Regions from separate parts of the Homo sapiens genome. Here region 2 is linked to region 1. The links come from fine-mapping of genetic effects on gene expression. A gene starts in region 1. The other region holds a variant in brackets. All regions are shown on one strand. Distances are from middle to middle.

Region 1 (10,148 bases):
TACAAAAATTAACTCAAAATGGATCATAGACCTAAATGTAAAAAGTAAAACTATAAAGCTTCTAGAAGAAAACATAAAAGAAAATCTAGGTGACCTTGGGCCTAATTATACATTTTTGGGTTTTTTTTGTTTGTTTGTTTTGTTGTTGTTGTTGTTGTTGTTTTTTGAGACGGAGTCTAGCTCTGTTGCCCAGCTGGAGTGCAGTGGTGCGATCTCGGCTCGCTGCAAACTCCGCCTCCTGGGTTGAAGTGATTCTCCTGCTTCAGCCTCCCGAGTAGCTGGGATTACAGGTGCCCGCCACCACACCCAGCTAATTTTTGTATTTTTAGTAGAAATGGGGTTTCACCAGGTTGACCAGGCTGGTCTCGAACTCCTGGCCTTAGGTGATCCACCCACCTCGGCCTCCCAAAGTGCTGGGATTACAAGCATGAGCCACTGCATCCGGCCTCAATTTTTTTTTTTTTTTTTGAGACAGAGTCTCACTCTGTCGCCCAGGCTGGAGTGCAGTGACGCGATCTCGGCTCACTGCAAGCTCCGCCTCCTGGGTTCATGCCATTTTCCTGCCTCAGCCTCCCTAGTAGCTGGGACTACAGGCACCTGCCACCACGCCTGGCTAATTTTTTGTATTTTTAGTAGAGATGGGGTTTCATTGTGTTAGCCAGGATGGTCTCGACCTCATGACCTGGTGATCCGCCCTCCTCGGCCTCCCAAAGTGCTGAGATTACAGGCATGAGCCACCACACCCGGCCAATTTTTGTATTTTTTTTTTTTAGTAGAGATGAGGGTTCACCATGTTGGGCAGGATGGTCTCGATCTCTCGACCTCATGATCCGCTGACCTCAGCCTCCCAAAGTGCTGGGATTACAGGCCTGAGCCACCATGCCCAGCCCTGATATATATATATATAGATAGATAGATAGATAGATAGATAGATAGATAGATAGATAGATAGATGTAATTTTGAGACAGAGTTTAACTCTTGTTGCCCAGGCTGGAGTGCAATGGCGCAATCTCCTGCTCACTGCAACCTCCACTTCCGGGGTTCAAGTGATTCTCCTGCCTCAGCCTCCCGAGTAGCTGGGATTACAGGCATGCGCCACCACCCCCAGCTAATTTTGTATTTTTTTTAGTAGAGAAGAAGTTTCCCCATGTTGGTCAGGCTGGTTTCACACCCCCAACCTCAGGTGATCTGCCTGCCTTGGCCTCCCAAAGTGCTGGGATTACAGGTGTGAGCCACCACGCCCAGACTCCTGATATTTTTTTTATTTTATTTTTTTTGACTCCTGATATTTTTAATTAAAAAAAAAATTAGGAGGTCAGGGAACCCAATATGGAAGGCAGATTGTGGCAAAAGAATTTAATGATACTACTAATGTATGAAATAACTTTTCTGAAGGGAGCTGGGGGAAAGGTGCTGACCTGAGTAATTTTGGAAATGAGTCGAGTCTGTAAGATCAAAGGCAAATGGAACTACACATAAGCACTGTACCCTAGTTTATAAGATTGTTCTCCACAGGGGTATGTGTTAACAATTCTCTTTTGAGACATTATGATTACAAATAAAGAAATATTTTATTTTATTTTATTGAAACGGAATCTTGCTCTGTAACCTAGGCTGGAGTGCAACGACGCGATCTTGGCTCACAGCAACCTCCGCCTCCCAGGTTCAAGTAATTCTCGTGCCTCAGCCTCCCAAGTAGCTGGGACTACAGGTGCGTGCCACCACGCCCAGCTAATTTCTGTATTTTTAGTAGAGACGGGGTTTTGCCATGCTGCCCAGGATCGTCTTGAACTCCTGACCTCAGGTGATCCACCTGCCTCAGCCTCCCGAACTGCTGGGATTACAGGCATGAGCTACTGTGCCTGGCACATATAAAGAAAAATTTTAGGCTGGGTGTGGTGGCTCACCCCTGTAATCCTAGCACTTTGGGAGGCCGAGGCAGGTGGATCACCTGAGGTCGGGAGTTCGCAAACCAGCCTGACCAACATGGAGAAACCCTGTTTCTACTAAAAATACAAAATTAGCCAGGCGTGGTGGCGCATGCCTGTAATCTCAGCTACTTGGGAGGCTGAAGCAGGAGAATCGCTTGAACCCGGGAGGCAGAGGTTGCAGTATGCCAAGATCATGCCATTGTGCTCCAGCCTGGGCGACAACAGCAAAACTCCATCTCAAAAAAAAAAAGAAAGAAAGAAGAAAAAGTTTAGGCCGGGTGCAGTGGCTCATGCCTGTAATACCAGCACTTTGGGAGGCCAAGGCGGGAGGATCACCTGAGGTCAGGAGTTCGAGACCAGCCTGGCTAACATGGTGAAACCCTGTTTCTACTAAAAATACAAAAACAAATTAGCCAGGTGTGGTGGTTCGTGCTTGTAATTCCAGCTACTCAGGAGGCTGAGGCAGGAGAATCGCTTGAACCTGAGAGGTGAAGGTTGCAGTGAACTGAGATTGCAACATTGCACTCTAGCATGGGCAACAAGAACAAAACTCCGTCTCAAATAATAATAATAATAATAATAATAAAGAATTTAAAAAGAAAAACAAAACAATTCTGATACTCCTATACACGTGTCCTGGAATAAACAATTAAGTAAATAGATGGCAAATTATGGAAGCCAGGTTTCTCACAGTTGGGGTGGGAGTTTAGATAAACAAGGGAGGTGGCTAGAATGATCCATGTAGTAATGGATTAAAGTTGGAGACATCAGTATGAATTCATGCTTAGCTTAATATAGATATGGATGGTTATATATGGAAATACATGTTTGTGTATATACGTGGGTTAGTATACACACATATATTTCCTTGCTTTCTCAGATGTGAGGGTCCAGAAGCAATGATACCTCAAAAGCAACAAGCACACCTAGGGCCCAGATCTTGGATTCTAAAACCATTTGCCAATAAAAGAAAATAGGGGTCCTTGGAGAAATGGCTGATTGCAGGACTGTGGCAGGAAATACACAAAATGAGCCTGGAGCATTTTATAGTACCAGAAAGTAAGGTGACACTAAATAAAAACAAGGTTTTAATTAAAATACCAATGATGACAACAACACTGATGGGACTCTTATTTTTCTCCCTGGTTGAGGATTGACCGCCATCATGAATGACTTAGTAACTATCTGAACTAGGAAGTTCATGATCAACTGACTACATACTTCAGGAGGAACAAATGGTTATTGAGGTCCTTCACCCTGGGAAGACAACAGTACCTAAGACAGAAATTCAGGAAAAACTAGCCAAAATGTATGAGACTACACTAGATGTCATCATCTTTGTTTGTTTTTGTTTGTCTTTATGAGATGGAGTCTCCGTCTGTCACCCAGGCTGGAGTGTAGTGGCGCAATCTCGGCTCACTGCAACCTCTGCCTCCTGGGTTCAAGTGATTCTCCTGCCTCAGCCTCCCGAGTAGCTGGGATTACAGGTGCCTGCCACCACACCCGGCTAATTTTTGTAGTTTTAGCAGAGACAGGGTTTCACAATGTTGGCCAGGCTGGTCTCAAACTCCTGACCTCATGTGATCTGCCTGCCTCTGCCTCCCAAAGTGCTGGGATTACAGGCGTGAGCCACCACGCCTGGCCTCATCTTTGTATTTGGATTCAGAACTCATTTTGGTGGTGGCAAGACAACTGGCTTTGGCATGATTTATGATTCACTGGATTATGCAAAGAAAAATAAACCCAAATGCTGACTTCCAAGACATGGCCTGGATGAGAAGAAAAGAACTCAAGAAAGCAATGAAAGGAACACAAGACCAGAATGAAGAAAGGGGGACTGCAAAGGACAGTGTTGGTGTGGCAAAAAGCCAAAGGAGTAAAGATGCTACAGTAACATCTGTGGCCACTGTGGATTTTTCACAAGATTTATAAACTAAAAACTTTTGTGTGCAAAAAAAAATGGATGGGGGTATGCTAAAGAGACACAGGAGCCAACGGAAACAGCTCTCAAAGGCCAAAGCTAGAACGAAATTAGCTAGAAAATAAATATGAAGTATATTGGATTATAACCCAAAGTATAAATGTCCATGAGTCCATACTGATTAAATAAATGGTTGAATAAATAATGGAGGAGTAGAGACAAATATCTCATATGAAAGAACTCCAGGCCAGGGATGGTGGCTCACGCCTGTAATCCCAGCACTTTGGGAGGCTGAGGCGGGTGGATCACGAGGTCAGGAGATCGAGACCATCCTGGCTAACACGGTGGTCTCTATTAAAAATACAAAAAATAAGCCGGGCGTGGTGGCGGGCACCTGTAGTCCCAGCTACTTGGGAGGCTGAGGCAGGAGAATGGCGTGAACCCGGGAGGCGGAGCTCTCAGTGAGCTAAGATCGCGCCACTGCACTCCAGCCTGGGCGACAGAGCGAGACTCCGTCTCAAAAAAAATAAAAAATAAAAATAAAGAGCCTAAGGACTAAGGATTTAATTAACCAAGCACCAACCCGTGCAGCCTCAGGAGACTGGTCCCGCAGCGCAAGTGTGTCCCTCTACCCCCCGCAAGCCGGGCCGCGTCTTCCTGGCTCTCCTGGCGCCGGCACCGAGCAGGGCGTGGACCTGAACTTATGTGACCCCACCCGGTCACAACCCGGGGTAGGAAGCTAAAGCCGTCCGCCCACCCGAGGGGCGGTCCCAGCACCCCAGTGGGGGACTGCTGCGCTCGGCCTCTGTGTTCGATCGGGAACCCAGGTCTCTTCCCTGCCAATAACAAAACCGCCGCGTCCCGGGCCTCCCTTCCGGAGCCGGAGTCGGCGGCCGAGCGCTGGTGGCGGAGCCTGGACAGTTAATTCCAACCGCCTCCGGGTGATTCCGGGGACAGGAGCGCCGAGAGCTCCTCCCTTTGGCCGCGGAGCCGGCTCGGCGCTGATTGGCTGAGGGCCTCGGTTGTGGCTCTTGAAGGCTCCCCATTGGCCCCGCGCTCCAGTGGCAGGAGTGTGGCGGCCCGGCCTCCGCAGGCTACCCGGGGTTGAAGCTACTGCGAGCTCCGGTGGCTGCCTGGGGACGCTCAGGGACGCTCATTCCTGGCCAGAGTCCTGACTTCTTTCTCGGATCGAGATCTCGTTGCTGGCTCGAGGAAATCACCGGCTCTTCTCCCGGATCCTTTTCTTCTCTCACTTGCTGGCTTTCTTCTTCCTGCCTCCCTGGCTTCCATCTCCCAACCCCGCGATTCCCTCCTCTACTCCCGTGCTCCCGTCGCCCGCCATCCTGAGCCATCCCACCTGCAACCTTCTGTCTTTTGCCCCTCCTTGACCTCAGAGGGTCCTGCCTTAAGCTTCTCACCAGAATCTCCTAGATTTCTATCTCTTCCCTGCTTGCCAGCTCTTGACTCCCAAATTCCAGCTGACGTTTGACCACTTGACATTTGACCCTGACACCCTTGACTGCAAATCTAAATTCTTATCTTCTGCAACCTGTACTGCTGAAACAGGCCTTCCCCCTGTCTTCCAACCCCGCTTTCTGACACCCATTTTTACTTTCTTACTCTTGGGTCAGTTCCTGCTACAGCTATCCCACCATGGACTTCTTGATGAGTGGCCTGGCAGCCTGCGGGGCCTGTGTATTCACCAATCCCCTGGAGGTGGTGAAGACCAGGATGCAGTTGCAAGGAGAACTGCAGGCCCCTGGCACATACCAGCGGCACTACCGAAATGTCTTCCATGCCTTCATCACCATCGGCAAGGTGGATGGCCTTGCTGCCCTGCAGAAAGGCCTGGCCCCCGCCCTCTTGTACCAGTTCCTGATGAATGGCATCCGACTGGGCACCTATGGGCTGGCTGAGGCTGGGGGCTACCTGCACACAGCCGAAGGCACCCACAGTCCTGCCCGCAGCGCAGCAGCTGGGGCCATGGCTGGGGTCATGGGAGCCTACTTGGGGAGCCCCATCTACATGGTAAGAAGAGGGCTCTTGCCTGGGACCTTCAGGGCAGATCCTCGTTGTAGGATAGGAGCTGTTCTTTCCCAAGGGCATAGGTGGCAGAGTGCTGCCCCACTGCAAGCAGGGAAAGGCATCAGGAAAGTGCTGGTAGGCTTCGGAGTCTTCTGATCTGCCCTATACACACCCATCTGATGGACACGATTGAATGTATTGATTAAGATTATGGGCTTTGGGGCCGGGTGCAGTGGTTCACACCTGTAATCCCAGCACTTTGGGAGGCCAAGGCGGGCGGATCACGAGGTCAGGAGATGGAGACCATCCTGGCTAACACAGTGAAACCCCGTCTCTACTAAAAATACAAAAAATTAGCCGGGTGCGGTGGTGGGCGCCTGTAGTCCCAGCTACTCGGGAGGCTGAGGCAGGAGAATGGCATGAACCCGGGAGGCGGAGCTTGCAGTGAGCCGAGATCCGGTCACTGCACTCCAGCCTGGGCCACAGAGCAAGGCTACGTCTCACAAAAAAAAAAAAAAAAGATTATGGGCTTTGGAATCAGACTTTCTGGAACTAAAATCCTGGCTTTGAAAATTACTAGTTGTTGGCCGGGCGCGGTGGCTCACGCCAGTAATCCCAGCACTTTGGGAGGCCGAGGCGGGCGGATCACGAGGTCAGGAGATGGAGACCATCCTGGCTAACACGGTGAAACCCCGTCTCTACTAAAAATACAAAAAATTAGCCGGGCGTGGTGGTGGGCGCCTGTAGTCCCAGCTACTCCGGAGGCTGAGGCAGGAGAATGGCCTAAACCCAGGAGGCGGAGCTTGCAGTGAGCTGAGATCCGGCCACTGCACTCCAGCCTGGGCCAGAGAGAGAGACTCCGTCTCAAAAAAAAAAAAAAAAAGAAAAGAAAGAAAATTACTAGTTGTTGAGCTTCAGTTGCCACATCTGTAAAATGGTGATAATTATAGTGCCCTTTCTGTGTGATTATTGGGAGGATCGAGGGAGACAAATGCGGTAGACATGAAAGCATTAGTGCGAATCCTGGCAGACAGTAAGCATTTGGTAGCATTTGTTTTTATTATTATGTGTTGATATTGAGGTTGGATTTGTGAAGGGGAGGATAAGGAATTTAACATACGTCAGAGAGTCTAGGGATCAGGAAGGCCCTGGGCATCACAGAATTAACAATCTCAACATCTGCCCCTTTGAGTTATCTGGTATAGGTGAAGGGTCAAGAGCCTGAGGCCCAGAAAGGGGAAGTGACCCACTCAAGGTCACACAGCTGTTTATTGCTAGGACTAGGCCCTGCTTAGTGCTCCCAAGAGCAAAAGAGACGGGGAAGTAGTATGTCCTGTAGCAGAGGCAGTCTGGTCTCATTTCAAGGTGTGAGTTTCAGGGACAGTGGTCTCCCCAAAGTCAGCTCGATACCTCTGTGGGGGTTGGGGGCTAGAGAGCAAGTTTTGCCCAGAGTCTGATGGGGAGCCTGATAGAAGTGGTGGCTGGAGATCCAGTCTGGGAATGGGAGCTAGCATGAGAGGCGGGACACCAGGTCTTGCCTAACATGAACAGCCTTAGGAAATATTGCCATTCTCCAACCACTCCACCCCCGACTGCTAGCCCCAAGGGAAAGAGGATATGAAGGGGTTGGGGTGTCTTGCAGTGCTGGGAGATCCACCCCCCTGGGGCTGGAGCCTAGAGACAGAGTCTTTTTGTTAACCAGTTTGTTAAGTAGGAAGAACAATAATCAGAGTAAGAGGCTATTCATTGCTGAACACCCTAGAGGAAGTGTGAGGGGGTGAGACATTTGGTTCTCAGGTAGGAGGATGGCCACTGGGGCACAGGCTATGATATTCTCTTGTTCCCAGGTGAAGACACACCTGCAGGCACAGGCAGCCTCAGAAATTGCTGTAGGGCACCAGTATAAGCATCAGGTGAGGGTTCCCAAGTCTGCCAAAGTCCCTGACCATCCTTTCTCTTTTCCCCTAGCTTTCTGCCTGCACCCAACAGATCCAATCCCAGCCACTGCTCTGCTCAACCCATCGGTTCTGTCCCATTTTGCCCCTGGAGTCTACCCAGACCCTCTTTACTCTTTTTTTAGATGGAGTCTCGCTCTGTTGCCCAGGCTGAAGTGCATTGGCACGATCTCGGCTCACTGCAACCTCCGCTTCCCGGGTTCAAGTGATTCTCCTGCCTCAGCCTCCCGAGTAGCTTGGGACTACAGGCGTGCACCACCACACCCAGCTAAATTTTTTTTGTTTTGTTTTGTTTTGTTGAGACAGAGTCTTGCTCTGTTGCCCAGGCTGGAGTGCAGTGGCGCAGTCTTGGCTCACTGCAACCTCCACCTCCCGGGTTCAAGTGATTCTCCTGCTGCAACCTCTTGAGTAGCTGGGATTACAGCCATGCGCCACCACGTCCAGCTAATTTTTGTAATTTTAGTAGAGATGGGGTTTCACCATGTTGGTCAGGCTGGTCTCGAACTCCTGAACTTGTGATCCGCCCGCCTCGGCCTCCCAAAGTGCTGGGATTACAGGCATGAGCCACTGCACCCGGCAATTTTTGTATTTTTAATAGAGATGGGGTTTCACCATGTTGGCCAAGCTGGTCTCAAACTCCTGACCTCAGGTGATCCACCCGCCTGGGCCTCCCAAAGTGCTAGGATTACAGGCGTGAGCCACCGTGCCTGATGCCTCTTTCCAATATGTACTCCAGTTCCTCTAATTTTCTGCCCCTGTTTCTCCTGACCAGTGAATGGCCTCACTTGCATACATCCCGCCCCAGTTCTTGGGTGCCCAGGGAAGGAACAATGGGGTGGCTAGACAACCAAGGGCCCACATTCTGGCTCTAAGCCCACATTGAACTGGTTGTCTGGACAAGAGATTCCTATTAAGGACCCATCCTTGGCAGTGTTAGGATGGCAGCCCCTGATGCTGGGCTGTCTGAACCCCACCCCCGGTCTTCCCCACACTAGGGCATGTTTCAGGCGCTAACCGAGATTGGCCAGAAACATGGTCTGGTGGGGTTATGGCGTGGGGCTCTGGGCGGCCTGCCCCGAGTTATCGTCGGTTCCTCCACCCAGCTGTGCACCTTCTCATCCACCAAGGACCTCCTGAGCCAGTGGGAGGTACTGCCTGGGAAATGGGTGGGTCTGTTTCGGGAAGGGGGGAAGGGGAGGGCAAGCTGCACTAGGCCCTGGAGGGGATGGTGCCCAACATTCACAGGTGAGGGAGTGGCAGGAGGGCTTGGAGGTCAACTCTTTAGACCCTTCCCACAGTTCTCTTGTCACTTCCTCCCAGAAGGGGTACCTGAGCCTTCAGGGTACCCTGGCCTTCCTCCTTCTCACTGTTTTTGCACTGTTATAACTGGTGCAGTGGAAGCTCCCCCAGTTACCAGCATCTGTGTCCCCAGGGCAGGGACTGTCCTGTCCTTGGGGTGTAATAGTTGGCTGGTTGACAACGCTCTTCCTCTCTACCCCCTTAGATCTTTCCTCCCCAGAGCTGGAAGTTGGCGCTGGTGGCTGCCATGATGAGTGGCATTGCAGTTGTCTTGGCCATGGCACCCTTTGATGTGGCCTGCACAAGGCTCTACAACCAGCCCACAGATGCACAGGGCAAGGTAAGGAAGTGCTCTGGGATGCAGGCGGGAAGCAGGGGATGGGGAAGGCAGATTGCGGGTGCAGGTGGGATAGCCTGAAATGCAGCCTGTAGAGGTGCTGCCCCTGGTGGGCTCTGACAAACTCCTTCTCTGTGCTCTCCCTCCCTCTCTGACACACTCTCAGGGCCTCATGTACCGGGGGATACTGGACGCTCTGCTGCAGACAGCTCGGACCGAGGGCATTTTTGGCATGTACAAGGGTATAGGTGCCTCCTACTTCCGCCTCGGCCCCCACACCATCCTCTCCCTCTTCTTCTGGGACCAGCTGCGCTCCCTCTACTACACAGACACTAAATAACAGCCGCTTTCCCAGTCTCCACCAAATGAGCACTCCTTGGCCACTTGTGCCTCCACCACTATGTCCTGGTGACTACTGATTAGGTGACCTTTCATCCATCCATGGGGGACAGCCAACCCCACTCCCCATCTGTTCTCAGGGTTGAATCACTACAAGAGATGAGTTTCCCTTCTTTCCTTGGGTGTTGCTTTAAACCTTCCCTACCCATTCCCTGGGTAACTCACACCCCTCTCTCAGGGCTGAACGAGTCATCCCAAAGTGTATTTCCTCCCACTCACCACTGCCACCCTTGAGTCCCTCCTGCTCCCATGCACAGTTTTAAACTCCTCCCTCCAAAAC
Region 2 (9,729 bases), 22 kb before region 1:
GGTTCCAAAGCTCAAGGCTGAGGCTGGCTGGTGGATTATAGTTCAAGTTGGGAGATCTGCAGGCAGGAATTATGGAGGCCAGTGTTTGGGGCAAGGAGAAGGGTCTGCAGACTTCAGGGGCCTCAGGACCCAGCTACTGGCCATCTTCAGTCCCTTGGGCTCCTCTGCCAGGCCGTTGGCTGCTCCATAACATTGCCCTGCAACTGCCACAGAACCCTAGCCTCCAAGAGACCCAAAGCTCAGGGCTCTCATCCCCTGGGTGCCAAGCCACACCCAGCACAGTCTCTTCTGGAGCTCAGACTTAGCATCTTTCTTGGAGCGAATAATAGGAAAAATGGGGGGTAAAGGAAGAAATGGAGCACTCAGTCATTTGTGGGTCAGGAGCACAATCACCACACACACACCACAGTCAGCAGAATGCCTTTCCTGATACATATACACACATATCTACACATGCACATGTACACACACAGATTTTCTGAGACACATACTCTGAATTCTTCTGGAAGAGAAGAACTGGCTTGAGAGGGCACAGGAAGCATCCAGGAATGGAAACTAGTATTTCCCAGACTCAAAAGACAGGACCAGTCATTGCTGCAGAAACAAGCAGGGTGACTACTGGTCTCTTGGGTCCAGATCACCATTTTCTTTGGCTGATTGGCTTCCTGCTCATTCCTGTTCCCAATTTTATCCTACGACTTTATCTCCAATGAGGCCCTTTTTCAACTGCCATGACCTAGATTTGTCTTCCTTGGCCCTGAGCATAGCAGGAATACTCATTGGCCATAGGCTCAGCCAGCTCAGTACCCATTGGCTGCTCTGCACTAAGCCTCTGTCTCCATTGGCCACACATTCAAGGCATCCTCATTCATTCTTATTGCTGTGGGTTCAGGCGGCCGTTTTCATTGGCTGCTCTGTCCTGAAGCTCGATCTCTATGGTTGCCACGAGAGGTAGTATCTCCACTGACAGTGAATCCAATGGATGAATGGGCTTTGTTCTCTCCGTGCCACACTGGTAGGTGTCTCCCAACATGTGCCCCCTCCTCAGCCTGCATTAGGGTGGGGGGGCATTGGGGGTGCCTGAAGAAGATCCAACAGCCTCGAGAAGCCTCTGGTTCTGGCGAAGGTGCCTCCTCCTTTCGTGTTCCCCTGTGACTTCACACACCAGCTGGGCAGGGAAGGCCCCAGGAAGCCCCTTCAGCCAACCTGGGGGAAGAGAGACAGAGGCTCCAATGAGGTGGGGGCAGGGAGCAGGTGAGGAGGCAAAGGGGGCCTCGTGGGGTCTCAGGCCTTCAGGGTCATTGTAGGTGTGGGAATTCATGGACAAGCCTGGAGCATCGGTAGAAAGGGCATCAGAAGTGGAGGTGACAGCAGCTCGGAGAGAGTCTGGGCTGCTCTTCCGTCAAGCCCTGCAGTGGCTGCTCATGTCTCTTGGAGTAAGAGGTGGAGTCCTTGCAGAGACCTGTCAGGTCCTGCGTGATCCCATCCCTGCCACTTCTATGACCTCATTTGCTTCTCCCCCTTTCTCTCTCCTGCTAGTCACACTGGCCTCCTTACAGTTCCTCAGTCACACACCAGCCGCAGGGCCTTTGCACTGCCTGCTGCCTCCAGCTGGGACACTCTTCCCCCAGACACCATGGGCCTAAATTAGCTCCATCAAGCTTCATGTTGCCTTCTCAGTGAGGTCCACCTCGGCCTCCCTATTGAAAATTTCAGTCTGCCCAACCCTGGAACTCCTGACCTTCTTTGCTCTGCTCACTTTTTTTTTTTTCCATAACACTCATAACCTTCACATGTACTTTATAATTTACTTATCTATTTTGCTCATTCTTTATCGTCTGCCTCCTCTGCTAGAACGTAGCTCCAGCAAGGAAGGAAGTGTGATATATTTGATTCACAGTCCCTAGAACAGCGAGTGGCACTTTGTAGGTGCTTAATAAATATTTATTGAATGAATAAATGAAACACGGCCAGGCGCAGTGGCTCACGCCTGTAATCCCAGCACTTTGGGAGCCTGAGGCAGGAGGATCACTTGAGCTCGGGAGTTCAAGACCAGCCTGAGCAACATAGTGAGACCCCCCACCTCCATTAAAAAAAAAAAAGAATAGAAATAAGGCCTGGCACCAGAGGCTCATGCCTGTAATCCCAGCACTTTGGGAGGTGAAAGGGGACGGATCACCTGAGGTTAGTTCGAGACCAGCCTGGCCAACATGGTGAAACCCCATCTCTACTAAAAATACAAAAATTAGCCAGACGTGGTGGTGGGCACCTGTAATCTCAGCTACTTGGGAGGTTGAGGCAGGAGAATCCCTTGAACCCAGGAGGCAGAGGTTGCAGTGAGCCGAGCTCACACCACTGCACTCTAGCCTGGCTGACAGAATGAGACTCTGTCTCAAAAAATAATAATAATAAATACAAAATAAATAAATGAAAGACTTTCTCACCTTCAGGGGTCTTGTGCAGGTGTTTGGGGGCAGCCCTGGACTCCAGACTCCGTCCTTCAGTCTTGGCAGGTGCAGACGACTCTGAACACAGTTCCTGGGAACAGTCTGGTTGGGGGTGGGTGACATTAAAGTGATTCTGTTTAGCTTCTCCCCCATATTCCTCTAAGACTCGCTTTTTCTTCCCTCATCCCCTCTAGGGGGATACTCACCACAGTCCTCATAGATGGTGTCTGGGGAGCAGGGAAGGGGGCCTGGGGTTGGGAAGGCTCCCAGCCAGCGCTGCATGTCTGATCTGGTGGGGATATTGGGAAGTGTCACAGTTGGCCCAAAAGATCCTCTGGGGCTGAGGCAGGAGCCACAGAAGAGAGAGACTGGGGAAGTGGGGGAGGTCTGAGAGGTCAGATAAGTGTCCCAAGGTTGTTTTCTGAGGGAAACACAACTCACAGGGAAGAAGCTTGGAGTAGTCGGTGGGTGGGGCGGCCCTGGTGGTTGCTGAGAAGGGAGAGGCGGAAGGTAGGGGGTCCAGATGGATCCGGAACCTGCTGGGCCTGGACCAGGGAGCGATGGGCATAGTCCAGAACCTGTAACCGCTGCCCACTGCCCAGGGATGAGGTCGTTCAGAAGGACAGCAGGGGTCCCGCTGGACCCCTCCTGCCCACTCCAGCCTGGGCTCCTTCCTTCCCTAGGACTCACCTCTTAGGCTGAGTGATGAGCAGCAGGTCGCTAAAGAGCAGCAGGCAAAGAGGGGTGAAGCGGGGGCGCGAGGCAAAGAGCACGCCCCCCCTCCGGCACCCTAACTCAGTCAGCTCTCCCTGGAATTCCAGGCGCCGTGACCAGGAGACCAGGGGCAGGGCCTGCGAGGAAGCGGAGGCAGAGGAGGTTCTAGCGTGGCAGCAGCAACATGGGGCAGGGCAAGATGGGGAGCCTGGGCAGCGATGTACCTTGACTTTGTGGAAGCGCAGCCTTTGGGTGAGCCGGATCAGCTCTTCAGTCTGCTTCATGCGCCCCACCTCAGCGCTGCAACGCTCGATGATCTAGGTAAGGGGAGCTGTGTCACCACCCCAGCGGCCAGCCCCCTGCTCCCTACCATTTCTCTCTACCACCTTGTCACCTCCCCCTGCTTCAGCTTCCCCACTGCCCACCTTGCTGACAGCACCCAGGGCCTTCTGGGCATTCTCCTGACGGCTGGACCCCTCTTCTGTCTGGCGCAGGATATTCTGGGGACAAGGAGGAAGGGTGACTGGGCCCCCTGCTCTGTGGCCCTGGGATTCAGAGGGGCCACAGCTCAGAGGACCCTGTCTGTTTCAGCCAGTTTCAACAAGGCTGACAGACCTCATCACTCACCATCTGCAGAACCCTGAGCAAGTCCTGTTACCTCTCTGAGCCTCAGCTTCCCTATCTGTAAAATGGGGCTAATACCCACCTAGCATATCAATAGCATTGTTTTGAGGATTCAAGAAGGCAATATATGTAAAGTGCTTAGCATAGTTCTTGGCACATATTAAATGTTGAAAAGAAGGTTCTTATTTTTTTTTCTTCCGGAGTCTGGCTCTGTCACCCAGGCTGGAGTGCAGGGGTGCGATCTCGGCTCACTGCAACCTCTGCCTCCCGGGTTCAAGTGATTCTCCTGCCTCAGCCTCCCAAGTAGCTGGGATTACAGACGTGTGCCACCACGCCCGACTAATTTTTTTGTATTTTTAGTAGAAGCGGGGTTTCACCATGTTGGCCAGGCTGGTCTTGAACTCCTGACCTCAGATGATCCACCCGCCTCGGCCTCCCAAAGTGCTGGGATTACAGGCATGAGCCACCGTGCCTGCCCCGAAGGTTCCTATTATTTTAATAATTATTAACCAAAACTGTTAGTGCAGGCAATATAGCAGAGTAGCTAAGAGTGCTTAGATTACAATTTTGTCTCCATCAATTATTTCTGTATGACCTGAGGCAAGTTATGTGACCTGTGCCTTAGCTTTCTCATGTCTAAAGTAGGACAAGTAATAGTTCCTACCCTCACATAGTTGCAGGTAAGGTTACACAGGTGTATAGCACTTAGAACCATTCCTAGAAAGCTTAATAGCTGTTGAGCTATTTTGATTAGTATCATTATTATTATTTTGTTGTCTACAATGGGGATAGATAAAGCTGAATAAGATCATAAAGACACTGATAATCTAGTTGGGAACTCTTCACATAAAGATCCCCTCATTCACTGGGCTCAGTAGCTCACACCTATAATGCTAGAGCTTTGAGAAGCTGAGATAGGAGGATTGCTTGAGGCCGGGAGTTCAAGACCAGCCTGGCCAACATAGTGAGACCCTGTCTCTATAAAAATAAAAATTAATAAATAGCCGGGCATGGTGGCATTGTAGTCCCAGCTACTCTAGAGGCTGAGGCACAAGGATCCCTTGAGCCCAGGAATTTGAGGCTGCAGTGAGCCGTGATCGTGCCAGTGCTCTAAAGATCCCCATATTGGGAGACCTGGTTAGAAAGGA[C/G]TCTCTGCTTTGCTATAGAAGAGAGTGTCTTAGGCCGGGTGCAGTGGCTCACGCCTGTAATGCCAGCACTTTGGGTGACTGAGGCAGGTGGACTACATGAGGTCAGGAGTTCGATAGCAGCCTGGCCAACATGGTGAAACCCCATCTCTACTAATAATACAAAAATTAGCCAGGCATGGTAGTCCACACCTGTAATCCCAGCTACTCAGGAGGCTGAGGCAGGAGAATCGCTTGAACCCGGGAGGCAGAGGTTGCAGTGAGCCGATATTGCGCCACTGTACTCCAGCCTGGGAGTGAGACTCCGTCTCGAAGAAGGAGATGGAGAAGAGGAGGAGGAGGAGGAAGAAAGTGTCTCAAATCTCAAACTTTTTTTTCCCCCGTATCACCCCACTAAGTTGCCTTTTTAAGATAATTTTCCCTAAACATCTCCCTCACCATGAAAGTTTAATTCTACAGATCTACTGGAACTCTGTTTATGCACTAAAGCTTAATGGAGTACAACTGTTGGAATAACTAAGATTATTTTCACCCCCAAAGAACCAATTTTTGCCCCCTTGGGGGTGATACCACCCCAGCTGGGAAGGCATGTGGGTAGAAGAATATAGCCAGAGACAACCTCAAAAACCGCTCACACACTCCCCCTGAGACCCAGCGAGCAGAAGGGACTTGCCTAAGGTCACTCAGAGAGTCAGTGGCAGAGCTAGGTGTGGAACTCATGTCTCCAGCCAGAGGGCCTTTCCCTGCACCTGGACCTAGAGGCAGTCCAGGTAAGGGGAAGAGCACAGGGCCCCTAAGGTAGGACTTGGTGAGTCCTAGGCTGAGAGACCCAGATTCGGAGTTATGATTTGGGGGATTTTATGTTTAAGGTGGAGTAGTGCATGGTGATAGCTGGAGGGCCAAGAAGCCCTCGGGAGAGTTCTCCGATGGGGTTGGTGGGGCAGAAACGGCCGCAGCTGGGACAGGTACCTGCAGCAGCATGCGCAGCCGGGTGATGCGCTGGAAGGGCAGTAGCAGGAAGGACGGCAGCGGGAGCCGCTCACACTTAGGGAGGCTCTGCAGCCGGCGCAGCTCGGCGGAGAAGCGCACGTTGGTGTCCCTGCAGAAGCAGGCATGGCTAGCGGCTGCCTGGAGGCCCTGGTGCCCCAACCTGCTGTGGCCTCGGTCCCATCCCTCTCCCCAGCTTCCTCCCCACCCCTGGGACACTCACATGAGGCGGCTGTAGGTCTCCTCCTGATACTGCTGGTTCCGCACATAATCCACATACACCGAGAAAGGCCCCACAGCGTGGGCATGCACCACATCACACAAGTCGCTGATGTGGGGGGAAGAGCGCACACGGGACAGGAGCGTTGCTAGAAACCTGAAGGAATTGGGGAAGCAAGCAATGGGGCGGGGCAGAGAGCCAGGTCTCCCGGGTTCTTGAGAGAAGGTTTGGGAACTAACTGGGTCCGTAGAAGGAAGGACCTGGGCCCGGGAGAGAGGAAAGGGCGTGCCCAGCAGCCTAAGGGCAGGTTCCCTGGAAGGACGGAAAGCCACTGACCGCTCGCTGACTCCCTGGACTCGCTGCACATTGGAGAAGAGTGTGTGGTGATCACGGGGGGTGAGCGTGTCCCGGAGTGCCTGGCTCAGCACGAAGGTGTCGGTCAGCAGCCGCAGGGAGCGCAGGTAGGAAGCCTCGGACGTCACCACCTCGAAAAGACTCTAGAAAGAAAAGCAGGCAGTCGTGGGAAGCCCAGTTCACCGTGGGAAGCTAGGACCCTGGGCCCTCCTCCCCTATGCCTGACCCATGCAGCCCAACCCCAGCACCCCCCTCCCATCTCCCACCTCCAGCTCCCACCTCCTGCATGCGCCTCTCCTGGGGGCTGAGGGTATCCAGAAGACCGCTGGCTTGCACAGCCGGAAGCTCCTGCCACAGGGTGTTGCGAGGTCCAGGGGGTCGTGGGAAGGTGGGTGCATCTCCAGCATTTGCTGGAGAAGGACTCCCATCCTCACCCACCCCCCACAGCTCCTCTGACAGCACGGCTGCTCGGTAGGTCTGGTACAGAGGTTCTAGAGGGCAAACATAGCACTTCAGGGAAGCCCAGGGCTCCCAAACCCTTCCCCACTGCTTGATGGTCACAGCAGGGACCCTCAGGTCCAGAGGCCCTCACCATCCTGCAGGGGCAGCTCCCAATTCTGCTCCTTCAGCACCTCTAGCCCCTCCTCTTCCCTGTGGAGAAAGAAAGGGAAGGAAGTCCCCAGGGCCACCACTGCTGCCCACCGTAGGGGTGCTTGTTCTCATGCTGGACAGGGCAACCCATGTGCAGGTTGGATGTAGGGACCCTGACGGCTCCCCAAATCAAACCTCAGGCTTTTTTTTTTTTTTTTTTTTTGAAGGGGAAAGGCAAGGTCTCGTTATGTTGCCCAGGCTGGTCTTAAACTCCTGGTCTCAAGCAATCCTGCCACCTTGGCCTCACAAAGTGTCAGGATTACAGGCGTAACCTACTTTGCCCGGCCCAAATTCCAGATCTTTTTATGTGCCTTTTAGAGAGGAGCCCCTGAACTAAGTGGGCCCCATTCTTATGTCAACTATTGCAGACCAGAGATTTCTGAGTCTCCTTGTCAGCCGTCTCACGTAGCAACCATTGTCTGGAACGCCCTATTTGTGTGTCAAGGAAGCTCAACGTGATGGACTGCAAACTCTCACACCTCCCACCAGCACCTGCAGCCCCTTATCTCCCCTGCTGTGGTCATCAGCACCACCACACCCCCATTCGCCCAAGCTAAAAACCACACTAGTAAATGTTTGTTGAATAAATGAATGGACACAGATAACTTCTGATAACAATGGTGAATCTAAGATAATTAACAATCCTGGATAGCATAGAAGAGATGGTCATGATTGCCAAATAGATTTTCGGACAATAATTGCAATAGAAGCTCAAGGTGAGGGAAGGGAGTTAAAATGGTGCACTCACTTACTCTGGACCCGGCTCTTCACAATATCATATCCCCACGATTCCATGAGGTGGTTCCTATGCTTAGCCCCATTTCACAGATGAGGACACTGAGACCCAGGAAGGCTACAGATTTTTTTTTTTTTTGAGATGGAGTTTCTCTCTTGTCGACCAGGCTGGAGTGCAGTGGCACGCTCTTGGCTCCCTGCAACCTCCATCTCCCTGGGTCCAAGCCATTCTCCTGCCTCAGCCTCCCGAGTAGCTGGGATTACAGGCACCCGTCACCATGCCCGGCTAATTTTTGTATTTTTAGTAGAGACAGGGTTTCACCACGTTAGCCAGGCTGATCTTGAACTCCTGACTTCAGGTGATCCTTCTGCCGCGGCCTCCCAGAGTGCTGGGATTACAGATGTAAGCCACCGTGCCCGGCCTTCTATAAGATCACAGAATTGATAAGGGCCAGAGCTGGGATTCGAAACAAGGGCTGCTTATCTCTAGAGCCCTGGCCCTTGTCCCCTCACCTTTGTGGAGGTGGGATTTAGCTGGAGCTGAAGGTTAGTCTGCCCTCAGGTAGAAGCATGGTGGGGAGAGAACCAGGGAGTAGGGGTGGGGGTGTTCAGTACCTCCCCTCCACAGTTGCTGGAGGAGTATTCTGAGGAGCTTCATCAGGACTGTCCCCTGGAGAGAGAAGCCAGAGTGAAGAGAAAAAAAAACTCCAGGATCCCCAGCCAGGACTCCCGACTCCAGCCCCAGCAGGGATGGTTACTATAAAAACTGCAACTCTCTTCAGCACCAGAGCAGCAGCTGGTGGGGAAGCAAAGAGCCCAGTGCCTGTTGGGGATTGTAGTTTGCTGGGCTTTAGTTCCCCCCTGCCTCTCTCCTGTCCCCTCACAGCCCAGAGGTCCACTCCCCCAGGCCCTGCACCTGTTTGGATTCCATCTTCAGAAAGCAGATCAAGATCTGGCTGTGGGGGGTCCCCGAAAATGGTGGCATCCTGCCTGACACGAGTTGGTTTGGGAGGCTTGAGGAGTGGCAGGAGTTTGCGCTCAGCAGTGGAGCGGTAGGATGTGAGGACAACGGCAGGGTGACCGATGCTTGGAGGGTGGGGGCGGGAGCGAGAGGTCCGCAGCGGGGAGGCCCGACGGGGGACCCTGGGGACCTCCTCATAGCCCCCCACAGGCACCCATCTGAGCTCCAGGCCAGGCCGGGTGGTGTGGCAGACACAGGGGCAGCAGGGAGGGCAGGCCAGGCCAGCATCTGTGGGAGACAGGTAGCCTAAGGAGAAAGCCCTTGGGGCCCAGCTCCACCCCCGCCCAGACCATCTCCATCTTTAACCTGCCCAGCAACTGCAATATCAAGGTCCAGGCATCTATAGATCTCCTCCACCCTGACTCCCTTCAAATCCCGACATACAGAAACCAGATATCCCAAACATTAACTCCATTTTTGAAAAGGTAGCCCCTGAAAGTTGTTAGCACTGAAAACGGAGAAGATGGGTGGATTGAGGTCACCCAGCGCCCCCCACCCGCCACACTCACCTGGAGCACCGTTCTCCTGGGACCCACTCCCGGTGAGGGGAGCTTCTCTCTCCCCATTCACATCTGCTCTCGCTTGGAGACCTGGCTCCGGGGCATCTGCATCCTGAGCCCGGCCTTCAGCACCCCCTTCAAACCTGCCAGCCAGCCTCCGCACAGTGCCAGGAGCTGAGGCAGAGCCATTCTGAGCCAGGACTCCAGCCATGGGGAGCAGAGGCGTGCAGGGTGACCCAGACGGCTTGGGTGGGGGGACTGGAGACCGGGGAGCAGGTTCTGGGGAGGCGGAGCGCCGGGACACTGGACTAGGTGTGGGGGTGCTGGAAGG

Evidence for each region. PIP is the estimated chance that this variant, and not a neighbour inherited with it, causes the effect.
Region 2: its variant is the best candidate, but not a certain one, in a credible set for the expression of SLC25A35 in visceral fat (GTEx, PIP 0.68).

Annotation. Positions count from the first base shown.
Region 1 is chr17:8,290,166-8,300,313 of GRCh38, reverse strand. SLC25A35 (solute carrier family 25 member 35) reads left to right here and starts at 4,914. Exons shown (of 5, transcript NM_001320870.2): 1 at 4,914-5,881; 2 at 7,726-7,791; 3 at 8,829-8,981; 4 at 9,338-9,472; 5 at 9,636-10,148. The coding sequence starts at 5,507. The coding sequence ends at 9,809. RefSeq lists enhancers at 4,295-4,424, 5,045-5,094, 5,115-5,194.
Region 2 is chr17:8,312,319-8,322,047 of GRCh38, reverse strand. ARHGEF15 (Rho guanine nucleotide exchange factor 15) reads right to left here. Exons shown (of 16, transcript NM_173728.4): 2 at 9,408-9,729; 3 at 8,794-9,126; 4 at 8,493-8,547; 5 at 7,084-7,142; 6 at 6,771-6,982; 7 at 6,474-6,634; 8 at 6,141-6,293; 9 at 5,900-6,029; 10 at 3,587-3,661; 11 at 3,386-3,478; 12 at 3,138-3,298; 13 at 2,889-3,041; 14 at 2,654-2,736; 15 at 2,445-2,549; 1 more. The coding sequence ends at 1,055. Among named protein-coding and RNA genes, the nearest start is that of ARHGEF15, 6.9 kb to the right of the region's middle. RefSeq lists an enhancer at 8,438-8,939. The variant C/G (reference allele first, on the strand shown) is at 4,934.